2 separate regions of the Homo sapiens genome follow, and region 1 is linked to region 2. Evidence: fine-mapped expression QTL. A gene starts in region 2. The other region holds a variant in brackets. All regions are shown on one strand. Distances are from middle to middle. Region 1 overlaps PDCL (phosducin like). Region 2 holds the start of OR1L8 (olfactory receptor family 1 subfamily L member 8).

The links.
Region 1: its variant is fine-mapped to the expression of OR1L8 in subcutaneous fat (GTEx, PIP 0.93).

The regions. Positions count from the first base shown.
Region 1 is chr9:122,820,623-122,826,007 of GRCh38, forward strand. PDCL (phosducin like) reads right to left here. Exons shown (of 4, transcript NM_005388.5): 3 at 2,394-2,575; 4 at 1-14. Among named protein-coding and RNA genes, the nearest start is that of PDCL, 5.3 kb to the right of the region's middle. The variant A/G (reference allele first, on the strand shown) is at 3,008.
Region 2 is chr9:122,580,275-122,585,659 of GRCh38, forward strand. It overlaps OR1L8 (olfactory receptor family 1 subfamily L member 8), which reads right to left and starts at 3,110. Exons shown (of 5, transcript NM_001004454.2): 1 at 3,047-3,110. It also overlaps a transcript of OR1J2 not described here.

The DNA.
Region 1 (5,385 bases), 240 kb after region 2:
TCCTTCAGAGTCATCTGCAGGCGGACCAGCAAGTGAGCATAAATATGAAAACTGAACACTCGTGATAACAGTTAATATGGGCCGGGCGCGGTGGCTCACGCCTGTAATCCTAGCACTTTGGGAGGCTGAGACGAGCGGATCACTTGAGGTCAGGAGTTCAAGACCAGCCTGGCCAACATGGCAAAGCCTCATCTCTCCTTAAAAAAAAAAAAAAAAAAAAAAGTTAGCAGGGCATGGTGGTGTGCACCTGTGGTCCCAGCTACACTGGAGGCTGAGGCACAACAAGAATCACTTGAACCTGGGAGGCAGAGGTTGCAGTTAGCCAAGATCACACCAGTGCACTCCAGCCTGGGAGACAGGGTGATACCCTGTCTCCAAAAAAATAAAAAGAAATAAAACAGTTAACATGTACTACATGCTGATAATATATAAGGCACCATGCTAAGTACTTTACATGCATTATATCTCACTGAATTCCATAACTCCATCGGGAAGGGACTTTTAATAGCCCCACTTTATAAATGAGGTTCCAAAACTTGACATTATTTGAACAAGTTCACCCAGTAAGCATAAGACCAGTACTCAAACTAGATTTTAAAAACCCATGTTTTTAACTACAATATCACATTTCCTCTCAATCCAAATAGGCAGCATCATATAATCTCACTTCATGAGCTTATTTCTTTTTGTCAGTCTTGACAATATTTTATCTACTTTTTTTTTGAAAGATAACAAGACATTACAGAATTTTAGAAAAAACTCTCATAACCCCTGCCCCACACCATCCCCAAACACACACACACACACAGAGTCATATGGACTCTAAAAATTATTTTTATTACCAGTCATACTAAAATAGTTTTGCTTTTATAGCAGCAGCTGTGGGTGTACCAATTAAGCCATAACCTGCTTTCGAGACTTAGCACGATTATAAGTATTTCCTCATGTTTCCAAATATTTTTATGAAATTATATATAATGTGTCACTTTGCTTAATCACTTCCCTAATTCTGCCAGACAGTTTCCAATTCTGTTCTATTGCAGATAAATCAGCAGGACGGGAACAGCCTCTCACAAGACTGATCCATGTGATGATATGATGTTGCCTCATTCTGGCCTCTCACCTCAGTATCAGGAAGCAGCTGTGAGCAGCAGGCACAATGCCCAAGAGACAGCTTAAGCTACGAAAGCATCTTACCCCTGCCCCGGTGCAGCAAGACATCCTCGCTCCTCTCATAAAACCTAACTCTGCCTAATGTTGCATAGATTAGGGAACAGGGAGTGGGAGATCACACTAGATCAGAACACGTTGTTACTTTATCATAACCAGCAACATTCTGAGTTCACTATTTTACTTATTGCCAATTTTCCTCCCATCTTGCAGCCCTCCACTTCAACTCAGTCTACCAGAGTGGCTTCTTCTGACCTATTGAAGTCTTTGGCTAAGTGTAATGTCCTAAAATCAGCCTCCTGGTCAAGGTGAATGATTCCCAGCTTAATCCTCTTATCTGCTCCCTGATCCTGTGTGGTATTTTAGCTTTGGGCCATAACTAAATGATCTCAGGCACTCACAGACATTCGTCCACACTCAGAGGGCATCCAGAGAAACAGTGAATCCCTTTTAATACTGATAGGATAAGAGGCCATCACGGGCCGGGCACCACGGCTCACGCCTGTAATCCTAGCACTTTGGGAGGCTATGGTGGGAGGGTCCCTTGACCTCAGGAGTTCCGAGACCAGCCTGGGCAACATAGACCCTGTCTCTATTAAAAAAAAAAAAAAAAAGGCCATCAGGTGCCTACTTCCAAATATCTTCCAGAGTATCTGTTTGCTTATTATAATGCCTCCTTAGAATAAATTCTCATGAATAGGCTTCAGATGAAATAGCAACATCATGGAAGAAACAGGAGTATTTGGGTTAGAACCCTAGCGCCTACTAGAATTTACCAGTTGCATTGCCCTGAACAAGCCTCTAATGCCCTCTAAGCATTGCTTCCATTATCTGTAAGAAGGGGATAATACCACCACCCTAAGAGGGTTATTTCTGGCCCAAGATAAAACCTCAATAAAAGAAGGGAAACTAAAATTTACTGAGCACTTTCAATGGGCCAGACACTGTGATGGGCATATTAACAACACAGCCCTGCACGGGGAGGATACATCATTTAACCATTGAAACACCAGATTCAGAAGGGAAGAGACTCTCCCACAGTCACTAGTAGCAGAACTGAGATCCAAAGCTGGGTGGGTTTGAGTTTTGACAGGGCTCTATGATTTCTCCTGCACTGCACAACTTCTTGGAGGTCAAATCAAGCATCCTCCACCTCTTGAATCACTCACCCAGCTCTAGCAGCCACAGCAGACTCTAAGAAAAGCCTGAGTACTGCTAATTACCTTCCCACTGATCTTCTCCTGGAGGTCTTTCTGTTTCTGTTGCTCCTCCTCTTCATCCAGATGGGACCTGCAAGTCATTGACAGCTTCTTGATCAGCCTTTCCATCTCCCGGCACTGCTCCTCCCTCTGCTCTGTCTCCAACTGCTTGAAGCGGCGCCAGTCATTGATCACACCTTTTGGGCCTGAGTAGGGTGAACACGGATGTGACCAAGGAGAATGGGCAGGGAATTATGGACCAGCTGACATCTGTAGGTAGGAGTTCACATCTGCCTGAAGCTTGCTCCATCTACTGCACAATTATCATAGGGACTCTGTGTACTCTGCCACAGGGCAGAGTGGCCTATACACAATGATGTACCCTGCAACAAGGGCCAAGCTAATGCCCAACATTAGGAGATGAGTTTAAAAAATTATCATCTACCTACTCAAAGGAAAATAAAGCAACTCTTAGAGTAAAGCAGCTCTGTGTTTCCTGCCATTAAAGATATTCCAAATATATGAGGTTATTACAAAAGCAAAATTTAGAATATCACGGTACAATCCTCTAGTTTCTATTAAAAAAGACCTGTATGTATATACATAATTTATGTACATAGATATGCATACATGTTTGT[A/G]TATACACTTGTGTGTTTATAGAATAAGAGCTTGCAGGATATGTAAGCTGTTAACAGTGGTTGTCTCCAGGTAGTAGGATCTAAGCAACTGGTGAGAGAGATCTTTTACTTTTTTCTTTCTGTACTTCTATATTATCTGAATTTTTTTTTTTTTTTTTGAGATTGAGTCTTGCTCTGTGGCCCAGGCTGGGGTGCAATGGCGCGATCTCGGCTCACTGCAACCTCCACCTCCCAGGTTCAAGCAATCCCCCTGCCTCAGCTTCCCGAGCAGCTGGGACTACAGGCATGCGCCACCATGCCCAGCTAATATTTGTATTTTTAGTAGAGACAGGGTTTCACCATGTTGGCCAGGATGGTCTCCAACTCCTGACCTCAGGTGATCCGCCCGCCTCGGCCTCCCAAAGTGCTATGGGATGATGGGCATGAGCCACCGCACCTGGCCTCTGAATTTTTTATAACAATTTTTTTATAACAAGATTGTAATACAACCTGTTCTGTTATTCCAGCTACCCTTAACCCGTCAAGCCCTGTGCTGCCGAAGGACTTATATGTCCTTGCACCTTGCTATGTGACTTGTGGTACCTCCTGTGGGATGAGTACATATATCCCCAGCCCATTGAGGCTGGGCTTGACTATGCGACTTGCTGGCCAATGGGATTGTGAGCAAATATGAAGTATGCCATGTCTGAGCAAAACAAAAAGTATGCCGTGTATGAGCCATTCCATGTTTCCAACAGCTCCTCTCTTGCTCTCTATGCTTCGCCATGAAAACGGTGTGTCCTAAATAGAGGGACACAGCCAAACTGAGGCTGTTATTCTTTCAGCCTAGCTCCTAGATGAAAGAACATACGAAACATAAGCAGGGCTGCCATTGACCTACAGGCTGCATGTAACGTGAATGAGAAATAAACCTTTGTTGCCATAAGCCACTAAAGCTTTGGAGTCTATTGGTTTCACAGAAAAAAAATATACAAATCTATATGAAGACAACTTTAAAATGCTCCCAAAAAATACTTGAAAGACTTGAATAAATGGAAAAGCAATACCATGTTCCTGAACAGACATACTCAACATCACAAAAGTGCCAATGATCCCTAAATTAATCTATATATTTAATGCATTCCCAATGAAAATACATGAACACACATATGTGTCCGGCTCCTAAATTTCCTTTGGAAAAAATAAAGCAAAAGTTAATTGAAGAGGGTCTAGCCTCACCAAATACTAAAATATAACACTACAATAATTAAAAACAGTATGACACAGCCCAGTAAAAGACAAATCAATGGAAGAGACCACATAGTACAGCTAAAGACCCAACATAAACAGAGAAATTCAGTACATAATAAAAGTGACATCTCAAGATAATAAAGATGGCTTATTCACTAAGCAGTACTGAAACAACTGAGTAGCAATCTAAAAAAAAATTAAACTGGAGCCCTACTGCACCCTGCATCAAAGTGAATTCCACATGAATCAATATTTAAGTGTAAAAAATGAAATCACAAAAATACTAATGAAAAGTATAGGAGAATCTTTTTTTTTTTTTGGAGACAGAGTCTCACTCTGTTGCCCAGGCTGGAGTACAGTGGCATGATCTTGGCTCACTGCAACCTCTGCCTCCGGGGTTCAAGCAATTCTCCTTCCTCAGCCTCCCGAGTAGTTGGGCCTACAGCCGCATGCCCCCACACCTGGCTAACTTTTTGTATTTTAGTAGAGACGGGATTTCACTGTGTTGCCCAGGCTGGTCTCGAACTCCTGAGCTCAGGCAGTCCACCCGCCTCAACCTCCCAAAGTGCTAGGATTACAGGCGTGAGCCACTGTGCTCAGCCAGGAGAACCTTTTTATACAGCAAAGTGAGGCCCTTTATAAAGTAGGGTGAAGAAACGCCTTTTAAGTAAAATGCAAAATTAAGAAACTATAAAATACTTTTAAGTACATAAAAATAAAATTTTTCATCCAGGAAAAGAACAAAAGAATATAAAGTCAAAAGACAACAACAAACTGAAAGAAATATTTACCACTCATATCACAGATTAATTTCCTTTATAGCTCCCCAAGAAGAAAAAAAACACCTAATTTTTTAAATGAGCAAAGGATATAAAAATCTCTCTTAAAATTATGAAAAGAAGTTTAGGTTCCCTCTTAAAAATAAATATGGGCCCAGTGCATTGGTTCATGCCTATGGGACGCTGAGGCAGATGATCGCTTGAGGCCAGCAGTGTGAGGCCAGCCTGGGCAACAAAGTGAGACCCCATCTCTACAAAAAATAAAGAAATAAATTAGCTGGGCACGGTGGCAAGCGCCTGTGGTCCCAGCTACACGTGGTCCCAGCTTTTTAAGAGAGGAACCTCATGGAAGCTGAGGCAGAAGGATCA
Region 2 (5,385 bases):
CTAATTCATATTGAGGACTCTAACTGTAAAGAATTCTAGGAAATGTATTCTTTTTATTTCTAGCCTTCGACGTACAGGATGGCACACTAGAATGCGGTCAGAATGAATGCCGAGTGCCAATGATCATTTACAAATAAAACCATTGAATAATAACCTTTCTGTTTCCCTTAGTTGATAGGTCTAATCTGTAATAATGTAAGTTTCCATATGGTCAAAGCAGAGGAACACCAGTGCTAAGGTATTTAGTACAGTCTGCATTTTTCAGGGCATATGACTCATGCTGAAGATCGTAACAATGCCAAGAAGACACAAGAATATGAGAAAGGAATTCCTAGAAAAAAGGCAAAGGTTTCAATGACTAAGCTAATTTTTTCTAAGTCTACTGATAACATACTCCCTACCCCATCCTCCATTAATAAAAGAATGGTTGTTGTATTGTATTATGAGGGAATTAAAAGTGTGATAAGACTGTGCTGGTGTCAGGGTATGTTTGTGTTGTATTTGTTTTTTGTTTTGGGGTTGTTAAAAAATATACTTTTGTTCTAGGCTGAAGCTACTACACTGTGGATCAATAAAACTACTAAAAAGTGTCCCAAGTAACTACTATAATGGTAATTTGCTTTCTTTTAGTAATAAGAACACACCACAGCACAGCTACAATAAAATAAGGTCCTAGAATGAGCAATAGGCCTTTATTTATAAAATTAAGCAATACTCAGTGTCTCTCTAAGGCCAGCTCTAAAAAGAATTCGACTGAATATTAAATATAATTATAATGGTTTATATTTATTTCATAATAGTGACAAATATGGGCTGGGCACAGTGGCTCACACCTGTAATCCCAGCACTTTGGGAGGTTGAGGTAGGCAGATCACGAGGTCAGGAGATCGAGACCATCCTGGCCAACACACTGAAACCCCGTCTCTACTAAAAATACAAAAATTAGCTGGGTATGGTGGCATGTGCCTGTAATCCCAGCTACTTGGGAGGCTGAGGCACAAGAATCTCTTGAACCCAGGAGGCGGCGGTTGTAGTGAGCCGAGATGGCGCCACTGCACTCCAGCCTGGCGACAGAGCAAGACTCCGTCTCAAAACAAAACAAAAAAAAAGTGACAAATATTATATTATGATCATCAGTCAAAGCAATTACAGTTAGGTAAAAAGGTAGGTCATTATAATTAGACTTCCAAAAAATTTTCAAAAATCTTTGTAGGACTCCTGTTTCTAGCAATTAGGCAAACTAAATGCATAGAACACATTTTCATTTCAAAACTCCTAGATATATCTACTTCCTTGTAAGAAAAATAAAATTTAGAAGTCTAGAAATACCAAGAAAATGTGAATTCACAGAGGTAAGCGAGTGCCAATCTTCTTTAAAAATAAAGACAGAGGCCGGGCACAGTGGCTCATGTCTGTAATCCCAGCACTTTGGGAGGCTGAGGCGGGTAGATCACCTGAGGTCAGGAGTTTGAGACCAGCCTGGCCAACATGGTGAAACCCTGTCTCTACTAAAACTAGAAAAATCAGCAGGATGTGGTGGTACACATCAATTGCTTGAACCCAAAAGGTGGAGGTTGCAGTGAGCCGAGATCACGACACTGCACTCCAGCCTGGGCGATACAGTGAGACTCCATCTCAAAATAAATAAATAAATAAATGAATAAATAAGTAAATAAAGACAGAACTTTATTTCTTAAAGCTTCACAAGAAACAAGAGACAAAGCACGGTGTCAAAGCATGGGGAGGAGATCATGGTATTGGAGACCTTTCCCTAAAGCTAGGACCACTGAAGGACTAAGCTCATAGTGTAAGAATTATTTTTTTTAAGTCTAATTTATTTTTGGAGATAGCAAGAAAAAGCAAATTTCTTTTTCTGCGTTTTTGACTTAACCATATTTTTTAAAACTTCTGAGAAGTGTTGCGTTTTTGACAAGGATATATTTTTAAACTTCTGAGAAGTATCAACGTCTAATGAAAGATTGAGAATACACTCAAACTGCATCCATGGCTTAAAAATAATAAACTAAGAAGAATTTGGTTTACGTTGGAATTAGGTAAAAGTAAACAAAAATCCTTTCTGGAAAATGGTTTAAGCCCAGACTTCAAAGACTTTCTAGAGATAAAGTTCCAAAATTTATGAGTTTAAAAAATACAAACAAGGCTCGGCGCAGTGGCTCACGCTTATAATCCCAGCACTCTGGGAAGCCTAGGCAAGAGGATCACTTGAGTTCGGGAGTTTGGGGCCAGCATGGGCAACATAGCAAGATCTTATCTCTGCACAAAATTAAAAAAAAAATTAGCTGGGCATAGTAGTACACACCTGTAGTCCCAGCTATGCAGGAGGCTGACATGGAAGGATCACTTGAGCCCAGGAGTTTGAGGCTACAGTAAGCTACACCCCATTGCACTACAGCTGGGTTGACAGAGTGAGACCCTGTCTCTTAAAAAAAGTTATTTTTTTAAGTTAAAGGAAAAAAAGACATAATGAGCAAGAGTTAGCAGAAATAACAACAGAATGAGACTAAAAAAGTTAGTAGCCACAATTTAAAAATAATCAGGAGTACATATATATGAGAACAAAATAAAAATCTCTAGAAATAAAAGTGTAATTAAAATGAAAACTAAAAGCAGCTCAACAGCAATTTAGATACAGCTCAAAAGAGAATTAAATAAAAAATAGAGCTAAATCATATAGATTATAGCAGAGAGAGAATATAAAAGAATAAGGAAATGGGATTATTTTATTATATTATTTTAACATAATATAATCAGAGACTCAATAAACAGGAATAGCAATACGTTTTGATGTGTAAATTTATAAATACTTTCCAAAAGAGGCAAAAGACCAATGTTCAGGAAAACTTCCATGTGGGACAACATGGAGTAAACAATAAATGGATACGCCCCTATTCACTCTAGTCTGATTTTGCAAAACAATCAGGCAAATCCCAACTGAGAGACATTCTATAAAATATTTCATCAATATTCCTTAAAACTGTCAGGGTCATCAAACAAAAAAAAAAACAGTAAAATATGAGAAACTCACAGTCAAGAGAAGCCGAAGGAGACAGGATGACTGAATATAATATAATATCCTCGATGGGATCCTGGAACACAAAAAAAGGATATTAGATTTTAAAAGTAAGGAAATAGGCCGAGCGCACTGGCTCACGCCTGTAATCCCAGCATTTTGGGAGGCCGAGGCTGGTGGATCACCTGAGGTCAGGGGTTTGAGACCAGCCTAGCCATCATGGTGAAACCCCATCTCTACTAAAAATAAAAAAAAATTAGCCGGGCATGGTGGTGTGTGCTTGTAATCTCAGCTACTTGGGAGGCTGAGGCAGGAGAATCACTTGAACCTAGGAGGTGGAGATTGCAGTGAGCAGAGATCGTGCCACTGCACTCCAGCCTGGGTGACAAGAGCAAGACTCTGTGTTAAAAAAAGGAAAAAAGAAAAAGTAAGGAACTAGGAATAAAGTGTGAACATTAGTTAGTAAATAAATAAACATCAGGAAAGCCAGACAAAATGTACAAAGCAAGTGATTTTAGATATTGAAAAAGGTAGCATGGGGAGATAGAATTTTCAGAATTGAAGTGTAAGGACTTCAGAAAATCTGCTCCTAAAAAAAGCAACAACAAAAGCTAGCATGTAATCCAGCACTCTAGGAGGCTGAGGTGGGAGGCTCACTTGAGCCCTGTAGTTTGAGACCAACCTGGGCCACAAAGTGAGACCCCATATCTAGTTAAAAAAAAAATACCTGGCAAATGTAGCCAGAAAGATAGAAACTGTTTCTGAGGTAGTCCAGATGTTGGAATTACTAAACAAAGACTTTAAATCAGCTATGTAAATATATTTATAATAGGTAGTAAAATATATATTCATAAGTTATAGAAATCAATGTAATACACCATATTAAGAATAAAAATGTAAAAAACCATATGATCATCTTGATAGGTGAAGAAAAAGCATCAAACAAACTTCAACACCCTTTCATGATAAAACACTTAACAAGCCGGGAAAGCTTGAAAACTTTTTTAACCTGATAAAAGGCGTCTATGAAAACCTCACAGCTAACATCATACTCTAGGGTGAAATACTGAGTGCTTTCCTCCTAAGATCAAGAACTAGATAAAGATGACAGTACTTGCCACTTCTAGTCAACTGTGATGGTTAATAGTGAGTGTCAACGTGATTGGATTAAAGGATGCACAGTATTGCTCCTGGGTTTGTCTGTGAGGGTACTGATTCATGCTACAACATGGACAGACCTTGAAAACATGGGCTGGGCATGGTTGCTCATGCCTGTAATCCCAGTACTTTGGGAGGCGGGGGTGGGGGGTCGGATCTTTTGAGGCCAGGAGCTCGAGACCAGCCTGGCCAACATAGTGAAACGCCATCTCTACTAAAAATACAAAAATTAGCTGGGCGTGGAGATGCACACCTGCACTTCCAGCTCCTAGGGAAGCTGAGGCATGAGAATTGCTTGAATCCAGGAGGTGGAGGTTGCAGTGAGCCAAGATTGCACGAATGCACTACAGCCTTGGTGACAGAGCAAGACTGTCTAAAATATATATATATATATATATATGTGTGTGTGTGTGTGTGTGTGTGTATATGTGTGTATATATGTATATAATGTGTGTATATATATACAACATTATGCAAAATGAAAGAAGCTAGTATAAAAGGGCCACATTATATGATTCCATTTACATGACATGTCTATAAGAGGCAAATCCATAGGGAAAGAAAGTAGATGGGTTGTTCCTAGGGGTTGGGGACAAGGTAGAATAATGACTTACTGCTAATGGGTACTAGATTTTGGGTTATGAAAATGTTTCAAAATGAGATAGTTGGGAGAATTTTACGACTCTGAATTAAATTTACTGAATTTACTGAAATTACACTGAATTTTATGGTATAGGAATTATATGAACAAAGCTATTTTTAAAAGGCTATGCAAAACAGCTATCCTCAACAAGGTTGGAAACTTAGGGATGATCTTTCTTATTTTCAGTCCTACTATCTGGAGAGCATTTCCAGGCTTCACTGTAGAAAGGAAAAATCAAAAATATTCCAGCAAACTCTTTTAGTTGAGGAGACAATGTTTGAAGACCAGGGAAGCCTCAGCTTCCCTAGTAGCTGGGACTGCAGGTGTGCACCACCACGCCCAGCTAATTTTTGTATTTTTAGTGGAGACCGCGTTTCACCATGTTGGCCAGGGAAGCCAAGAAAGCTAGAATTCTTGGGACAATACCAGAAAAAAGGAAATTGTGCAGAGAGAAATATCAGATATTTTCTGGTGGGCTTTCTTGGGCCTTTGACTGGGTTTAGATCTGAACATGTGTGTGAATAAACTACCTGAGGCTGGAGAAAGTATCACT